Regions from separate parts of the Homo sapiens genome. Here regions 1 and 2 are each linked to region 3. The links come from fine-mapping of genetic effects on gene expression. A gene starts in region 3. Each other region holds a variant in brackets. All regions are shown on one strand. Distances are between the middles of the regions.

Region 1 (2,760 bases), 59 kb after region 3:
TTGTGGTCCCACGTCCCATCAAACAGGCCTGGCTGTGCTTCCAGTTTCTGTCTGGTGACACCAGATCCTAGACACTAGGATCTTCCCCGCATCCCTCCAGTGGAGGGGTTGTAATGTCTTTTTGCTATTGTTCATCTCTGGGGTGCTTCTCAGATCTTTCACCTGTGTAACCTACTCCCCAGAATGAATTCCTTCTGTTCTTTTTAAAAATTTTTAGATGGAGTCTCGCTCTGTCACCCAGGCTGGAGTGCAGTGGCATGATCTCTGCTTACTGCAACCTTCAGCTCCTTCAGGTTCAAGCAATTCTCCTGCCTCGGGCTCCTGAGTAGCTGGGATTACAGGTGCCCGCCGCCATTCCTGGCTAATTTTTGTATTTTTAGTAGAGACAGGGTTTCACCATGTTGGCCGGGTTGGTCTCGAATTCCTGACCTCAGGAATTCCTGACCACCTAGGCCTCCCAAAGTGCAAAGATTACAGGTGTGAGCCACCGCGCTCAGCCCAAATTCCTTCTGTTCTAATGCATAGAGTAGTTTCTGCTTTCTGACTGGACAGCAAAATACCACTCAGAAGCCAGGGCTGCAGGGAGGGGCTGGGTCTTGGTGCTATGGGATCCCTGGCACCTCCCTGGTACCTGGTCCCTCAGGCAGCCCAGCCCTTGGGGAACAATGGAAATCATCTCTAGGTCTGTCTGCACCTTCCCTGGTTCAGGGGGCTGTCAGCCATTCCTACATGGAGCTCTTGGAATGTCTTCAGTCCCAGAAGAACTGAGCTGGTCATGCTCCAGTATCAGTGGCTGTGGTAGTCTGCTGAGCTGCCCCAGTCTTGGCTGGCTGAGACCATTACTGCCAGGCCCAGAGCAGACAAACACAGAGGAAATCCAAGGGCACTGTGTCAGTGCAGAGCCAGGGTTTGGGGAAGGGCCAGGCCCTACAGCCCTGGGGGAGGGGAGGAGGAAACACAATTTTCTAGCCATGATGCCTCAGCAGCATGTGTCTGGCCCCTACTCAGAAGGGGCAGTGAGCCCCAGGTTTGGGAAATGGGAAGTGGGATGGGGCTTCTGGCCAGGGCAGAAGCTGCTGGTCTTGGGGTCTCAGGGCTCCTGGGCACATCAGTAGAGCCTCTGGTGTGGGAATAGAGCAGCACGTTAATAGCAATAACTGCAGCATCTATTCACTACTCACAAGGCTGTTTGAGGTTAAACGAGGGAATCCACTTTACAGGACTAATTCAATGCCTGGCACATAGGAAGCTCTCAAGAGCTGCAAGCTAAAAGACCAAACACAAGTCTCAACAGCAGCCAGCTGCCATGGGCCTCACGCTGTTGGGCTGTCATGAGACTAGTGGTCTGGATGGAGCCCCAGGCCTCTCCCCTGGGGCAGGGCTGGAA[T/C]TGGGGACACAGATCCAGCTAGAAGAGGGCCGAGTCAGGTGAAGGATCACGGGAGTTGGGAGGGCATGGTGATTCTGGGGCACACTCCCCAGGGATGTGGGGGAGGCAGCAGGTGTCCATCAGGCAGTTGGAGCTGCCGTGGGACACGGGAATGGGCATCTCCTAGTGTCCAGGCAGGTCAGAGGTCAGAGCCAGGTCAGACTGTGGGCAGCAGGGTTTCAATCTTTGGTTGGGGTTCAAGCACTAAGCTCTGGGGAAGGAGAGATCAGGCCGATGAAAGATACAGAGATCATAGCAGGAGGCAGCATTGAGAACTGGGCACAGGGTTAGAGTATGACTGTCAGTGCAAGGGACTTTGTATTGGGCTCTGGTGGCTGCCCTAGAGCTGCTTAAAACCCTCCCATATGAGGACAGCATGGTTTTAGGGAGCCATGTGGGGCCAGACTTGGGAGAGTGTCTTGGGATGAAGAGGTGGGGTGGTAGCCAGAAGGCCAGACTTCCCATGCAAAATACCCTCGTTCAAATCCTGTCCCCACACTTACCAGCTGTGTGGCCGCCTTCAAACAAGTTGCTTCATCTCTCTGACGCCTCACTTTCCTCACTTTCCTCCTTGTGGGCAAACCAGGAAAGAGTCCTGCCGATGGGGTTGTTGGGATGTGGACACAGGATACATCACGGGAGACTTTGGCACTCTGTCAGGCACATAAAAGTGCTTAATAACAACTTGATCCTTGGCCACACAAGCCAGTTTTGATCCCTCCCCCGCCCTTCCCCGTATTTCTTCCAAGTGTTGCAGGCAGCGACCCCACACTCACACCCGCTGTGCCTTCAGCTTTCTCCCTAATGCCCATGGCTCTGACCCTTCACCGCCGGGAATTCTGAAAAATACCCCATGGCTGCCTGAGTTCTTTCAAAACTGAAAGCAAGTAGATGTCTTAAGAGGCCAAAGGTTGTTCCCCTGGGAACGTAACTGTAACCATGTCCTCAAATACTCTCTGGCGATCAGTCGGCCATCTTGAGTTACTGCAGGCTCCAGGCGCCTCCCCGGTCTGCTGATGGTGCGGTTGCAGCTGATTGGCCGGCGTGTGGGAGTGCACCTTCCCCCTACTTTTTTGTTTTTTAATTTTTTAATCATCTTTCTAAATGCTTTTATTTTCATTTTTCATCCTCCCTGCTCCCCGAAAAAGTCATGGGTCAGAACAGCAACCATAAAATACAAATGCAAACACAGACCAGGCACAGTGGTTCACACCTAAAGTCTCAGCACTTTGAGAGGCCAAGACGGGAGGATTGCTTGAGTCCAGGAGTTCGAGACCAGCCTGGGCAACATGGTGAAACCCCGTCTCTCCAAAAAAATACAAAAATTAGCTGAG
Region 2 (2,760 bases), 45 kb after region 3:
GTTCTCTGCATAGGGAGGGCCGGTCAGCCTTGAGAAAGAAGGCCAGCATTTGTGACACCACTGGCTCTTATACTCACATGCATATCACTGTCCTAAAAGAAATGACCACAACACCACTGTTCTCAAAGAAAACTACCTCGTCTCTACATTCCTGTTTAAGGACCTGTTTAGAAACATTGGGATCTCCTGGTTCTAAATCCTGAGACGCCATCCCCTTTGGGGCAAGGATGTGGCAGAGTCTGTGGCCAAATGTTCCTGAAGGGCATCTCTGCCTGCCTCCCCACACCCAGCACCTCCCCACAAGGAGTAACCACATAGAGCATGGTGAACACACACACACACACACACACACACACACACACACACACACACACGCCTCTCTCAAGACATAGAGTAAATATATATTTAACATATTTAGTTTCTTATTGATTTTGCAAAAAGAGGACAAGCATCCCTGAGTCTCTCCTTGTTGATACTCTTCTGGAAGCAGTATCATGCAATGGAAAAACAGGAAATGCCAGGAGATTTTTGGATAAGCTGAAAGTGCCACCGAATCATTCTTTCCAGCTAGATGGCAATTTCGTCTAGGTAAAACTCTCTCCTGTATTTCTACTACACCATTCTCAAAGTTTTCCACAGTGCCCTGTAAATGGCAGGTGCTCCATAAATGCCTGTGGACTGAAAACTCATGGAATCAAAGGTTACATGCCCTCGTTCCTGCATATGTGAAATCCGCCATGTGCTGGCCCTGGCTGGCTATTTAAGAAACCAGATGAATAAGGTCTGGTGCCCACATGAAACTCACACTCTAATGGAATTGAAAGACCTGTCCAGGGCATTCTGCTGTGGGATAACTTACCCTGACGGTATGGGCAGAATTTAGGGCCCAATCCTAGGAGTTCAGTAACTGAGAGATTTCAGAACTTGAATTGGAATTTTAGAGAATCCCAGAAATTAGAAGTTTCTTCCAAAACGCCGTAGGCTGCTAAGAGCCAGCCATCTGCTAGTGAGGGCCCTGTTGCCCTGATCAGGGTGGGCCCTTCAGTGGCAGAGTTAGGATCAGGCCCAGTACTCCTGGCTGTCAAAATGTGAGCAAATGTTGGTGCCAGCTTTGACAGGTTTATTCAAGCACTTGTGTCTGTCTGTGCTCCTCCTCTCCCAGCCGCTCCTTCCAGGGTCTGAACGCCAGGTGCAGGCTCTCCTGAGCAGGTATGGCCCTGGGAAGCTGTACCAGGTGACAAGCAACATCAGTGGGACTGGGACTCTGGACCTGACTCTGCCTCGGGGCCAAATCGTGGCCATCCTTCAAAACAAGGACACCAAAGGCAACAGCGGCCGCTGGCTGGTGGACACCGGGGGTACGTGAGCCTTTGGGAGCCCTTCTTCTCCTTCGGGGAAAACCACCCCACAGAAGCCGGTGCAGAGACCCGGGCACTCTTGTGGGTCAAAGTCTGGCTGGGCATTCCAGGATGGGAGTAGGCACAGGTGACACACACAGGGCTCAGGGCACAGTCAGTTTAGAGTGACTCCGTGGGACATGAAAAGCCAACAAGAGGAATTGAGGCATTCGTTGCAGGGTCTA[C/T]CATGAAGCACCTATGGTGTGCTGGGCGCTGAGCATATAAGACAAGGCCCCTGCCTGGAGGGCCTTGCAGACCACTGAGGTCAACAGGGCTATATGGAGAGAACTCCAGGACCACCCTGAAAGATGGAGATGGGCACGGAGATAGAATGCCTGGACCCTGGCTACACCGCCAGAAGTCTGATGTGCAGAATGAGGGGAGCGATCATCCTGCCCACTCCATACTGGTCATGGCCTTGGGAAGTGCTGCTGAGGTCTGGGTGCCCCAGTGTAACTGGGCTGAAGGGAAGTGGCACCATGAATCCAGGTGATATGGCCCAGGAGAGCATCTTCCGAAGAGGGGTGTGTGACCCACAATATGAGGGGTGCCTGAGATTATTGTCAGGGGATCCACAGACAGTTTTTCCCCCTTCAGACAGTGTATTATAATTGTTACTTAAGCATTTTAATGTGTATTAGAAAAAATATAAGTAGTCCATAATTCCATGATTATAATCATATTATTGTATATAGTACAAGATGAAGTTTTAAAAAGTGAGTCAATTAAAAAATTAAGAAAGCGGTACAAATCAGACAGAAATCATGAAACAGCACTTCCATGACTTAAGGTGGGAACCACAGAACGGGTATTAAGCAAGGCCCCCGAGGCCAAGAGGACTGGATTTGGATTCCAGCTCCACCACTTTGCTGACTGTGTGATCTCAGGGAAGTCATGGAGCCAGTCTGAGCTCGGCTGGTTGAACGTAAAATGGAGAGGATAATATCACTGGCTGCCCTCAAGAGGTGATGTGAAGACTATGTAATGAAATGCTTGCTCTGTAGTTTGGCACACCCTCAGGAAGTGATAGCCATTCATAATGACAGCAATCAGAACAGCACTGGACTAGTTGCTACACATAAAGGAACTGGGCTCACATGGAGAGGAGAAAGGCAGTCTCCGCCTCCTAGGAAAGGCAGTCCTGGGGAGAGGAAGCAGCTCTTGCTCTGGGCAGACACCAGAGGGGCATGGGAGCTGGCGGCTCCATCAGATAAGCAGTTTTCATGCCAGTCCAGGGACAAACTTTTAGTCTCTATCATAGCTGATCAAAGGGAGTCGTCTGTCCGGTAGGGAATGAGCCCCCCATCACTGGGGTGTGTGAGCAGAAGCCAGAAACGGTGAGTGTGGGGCAGGGGGGTTCAGG
Region 3 (2,760 bases):
AGCAGCCTGAACCCTCAGATAGTCTGAATTCGAATACTGGCACTGTCACTTAGTAGTTGTGTGTCATGGGCAAGTTATTTTCACCTCTGTAGCTTAAGTTTCTCTCTCTTGAAAATGAGGATAATAATAATGATACCTATCTCTTAGAGAAATTGTGAATGAGATAATTGAGACAGTACAAGTAAAACATTTAGTATAGCGCCTGGCCCTTAGTAAGCAATATGACTACTACCAGCAGTAATAATAAATAATAAGCCCTAAATTAAGCCCTAAAAATGAAAATAAGAATAAAAGAAGTGGCAGAATGAGAAAAGCTAATCTAGTCCATTCCTGACGCTACAAACAAGGTTTGGTTGCCCCGATATGAAACTTTACATGCGTTTCATAGCAACTATCACTTTCAATGGTGGGTTTAGTGTCTTGCACAGGAGCCCAATAAGGCCAGGACCTTGTCTATCGTGTTAACTGTTGTGTTCTCTGTGCCCAGAACAGTGTCTTGCTCCCAGTAGAGTGAAAGAATGGACCAACACCGTCATGTCATGGAAGCGACTGGCCGACTTGGCTAAGGTTGTGCAGGGCTCCCAGGAGAGCTGGGGCAAGAACCAAGGGCTCCTCGGCAGCCAACACTAAGAATTAAATTGAGGCCCAGCCCTACAGTTTGGTGATTCGGGCAGGAGCAAAGGTATCCAGTAATACCGGGGTCAGCATTCCCACCGGGTGGCCTAAATGCCGGCTCCTGTTTTCTGGATGACGAGCCCGCGGAGAAGGTGGCTTAATGAGAGGCCGCGGGAGGGTGGGTGCCGGCACGTCGCTAAACTCCGCCTGCAATCCTTCGGGTTGGCTGCCAGCCAGGGCACGGTTCCGAGCCGGCCGGGGCTGACTCCGGGAGCAGCGAACAGAAAACAACCTGGCTCCAGAAAGACAATTAACAAAGGCTGGAGACCAGCCACCCCCTCGCGGCGCACGCACGCAGGCAGCTGCGTGGGCATAGCCGCGCCCGCCAGCGCCCTCGGTGGGCACAGCCACCCGGAGCGGCGCGGGTGCCGGGAGCTGGGCGACGCGCCCCTCCTGCCCCGGCTGCGCTGTTGCCCGGGCGGCCGACCTCCGTGCGTGAGCGCCGGCAGGCACCTTGCGCGCGCGGGTGAGTCCGCTGGGCGTTTGGGGCCTGGTCAAGCAGGATGGGGCTGGAGAGGGGTGCAGGAAACAGCTGCTGGGAGGATCAGAAAAGGGAGGTGGGACAGAAAGGCAGGATGCGACGACCTCCCGGGTCCCAACTTGCTTGGTAGCTAGCTTTGTGTCTTGAGCCTTATGAGAATGTAAGCCACCTGGTCCATATGGCCTACCCTAGTCGTTTTACAGGTGGGAAACTGAGGCCCAGGGAGGTTAGCCGGCCTGGAAAAACATTATTATTCTTTGTTCCTGTTTCTCTCTGCCTTCTTCCGTGCAGGATTTCAGACAGCTTTTAGAAAGAATGCATACATTATAACAACGGAAAAATACAAACAATGGTAAAGAATCCTTGCCAAGCAAAATATAATTATGAATAGACAGTCAAGGCCAGGAAAAAAGAGAACAGAAATCCGTGATCCATAGGTGAGGTGACTTGGCTAAGGTCCCTCAGAAAAGTCGTGCCAAAGCTGGGACTAGAAGTCAGAACGTCCGGCTTCTGAACGCCAGAAACTTACAGTGGGGAAGCAGACAGCCTGCCCAGGCACTGGTTCTTAACCTTCTGGGGGTCCCTGACCCCTTAGAGATCTGTGTCCACTCCCAGCAGAAGGGTTCACACAAAGCCTTGTGCACAGTTTGAGATTTGACATGAATTCCTGCTGTAAGGAATGCCTGCAGGCTGCTACTCAGGCAGGGTGGTTTCAGAGCACTTTCTTTGCTCCTTTGAAGGGAGGCAGCTGGTGGAGGAGTACCTGCTGTGCGTCCAGACAGCCAGCTGTGTGATCCAGGAAGCATAGTTTAACCTTTTCAAGGCCTAGTTTTATGTGTAGACGGGGGATGAGAGTGTCTGCTTCATCCTCCAGGTTATTGTCAGACTTAAGAATGAACATAAAGGCTAGTGCTTGACATAATATATGCTCAATAAAAGTGCTGACGATTATAGGGTGACTATAGTTTACAATAATCTATTGTATATTTCAAAATAGCTAGAAGAGAATAATTTGAATGGTTCTAGCATAAAGACAAATATTTAAAGTGATGGATATCCCAAGTACACTGATTTGATCTTTATAAATATATTAAAGTATCACAGGTACCCTGAAACTATGTACATCTATTATGTACACAGTTTAAAATTTAATTTAATTAATTAAAAAAAAAAGTGATGACACACAAAATCATCAAAGCTGTGGGAATTAGGAAAGGGTGATGACCTGGAAGAAATTGGGCTGTATCTGAAATAAAATACAATTTAAAAAATTATAAACATGAAAAAATAAAGTCAGCCCTATTATGACTTACAGACCACACCACATACCTTCGTGATGGTATCCTAAATAAGGGTGCAGCAAGGTACTACCCTCAATATTTGACTCCAAGTCAAAAGCTGAAAGTAGAAACTACCAGATACTGTAACAAGGAGTGTTTACTGGGCTTCACTTGCCTCTTTCAAATGGGGTCAACACCCCGTTTTTTTGTTGTTGTTTTTTCTTTGTTTGTTTGTTTTAGACGAAGTCTCGCTGTCTCCCAGGCTGGAGTGCAATGGCACAATCTTGGTTCACTGCAACCTCCGCCTCCCGGGTTCAAGCAATT

Alleles and levels. Positions count from the first base shown, and alleles are read on the strand shown. Sizes are in standard deviations (SD) of each study's normalised expression. Not every link is listed here.
For the expression in cerebellum of the gene that starts at base 1,015 in region 3, C is the low allele of the variant in region 2 and T is the other (small effect, 0.35 SD a copy in GTEx).

What was found. PIP is the estimated chance that this variant, and not a neighbour inherited with it, causes the effect. A credible set is the group of variants that fine-mapping cannot tell apart.
Region 1: its variant is the best candidate, but not a certain one, in a credible set for the expression of ARHGEF37 in sigmoid colon (GTEx, PIP 0.79).
Region 2: its variant is the best candidate, but not a certain one, in a credible set for the expression of ARHGEF37 in cerebellum (GTEx, PIP 0.54).

What each region holds. Positions count from the first base shown.
Region 1 is chr5:149,639,070-149,641,829 of GRCh38, forward strand. It overlaps LOC124901104, which reads right to left and starts at 2,412. Exons shown (of 3, transcript XR_007058990.1): 1 at 2,203-2,412; 2 at 1,930-2,079. The variant T/C (reference allele first, on the strand shown) is at 1,388.
Region 2 is chr5:149,625,914-149,628,673 of GRCh38, forward strand. It overlaps ARHGEF37 (Rho guanine nucleotide exchange factor 37), which reads left to right. Exons shown (of 13, transcript NM_001001669.3): 11 at 1,163-1,358. Among named protein-coding and RNA genes, the nearest start is that of ARHGEF37, 46 kb to the left of the region's middle. The variant C/T (reference allele first, on the strand shown) is at 1,583.
Region 3 is chr5:149,580,484-149,583,243 of GRCh38, forward strand. ARHGEF37 (Rho guanine nucleotide exchange factor 37) reads left to right here and starts at 1,015. Exons shown (of 13, transcript NM_001001669.3): 1 at 1,015-1,141. RefSeq lists an enhancer at 676-805 and a silencer at 886-1,065.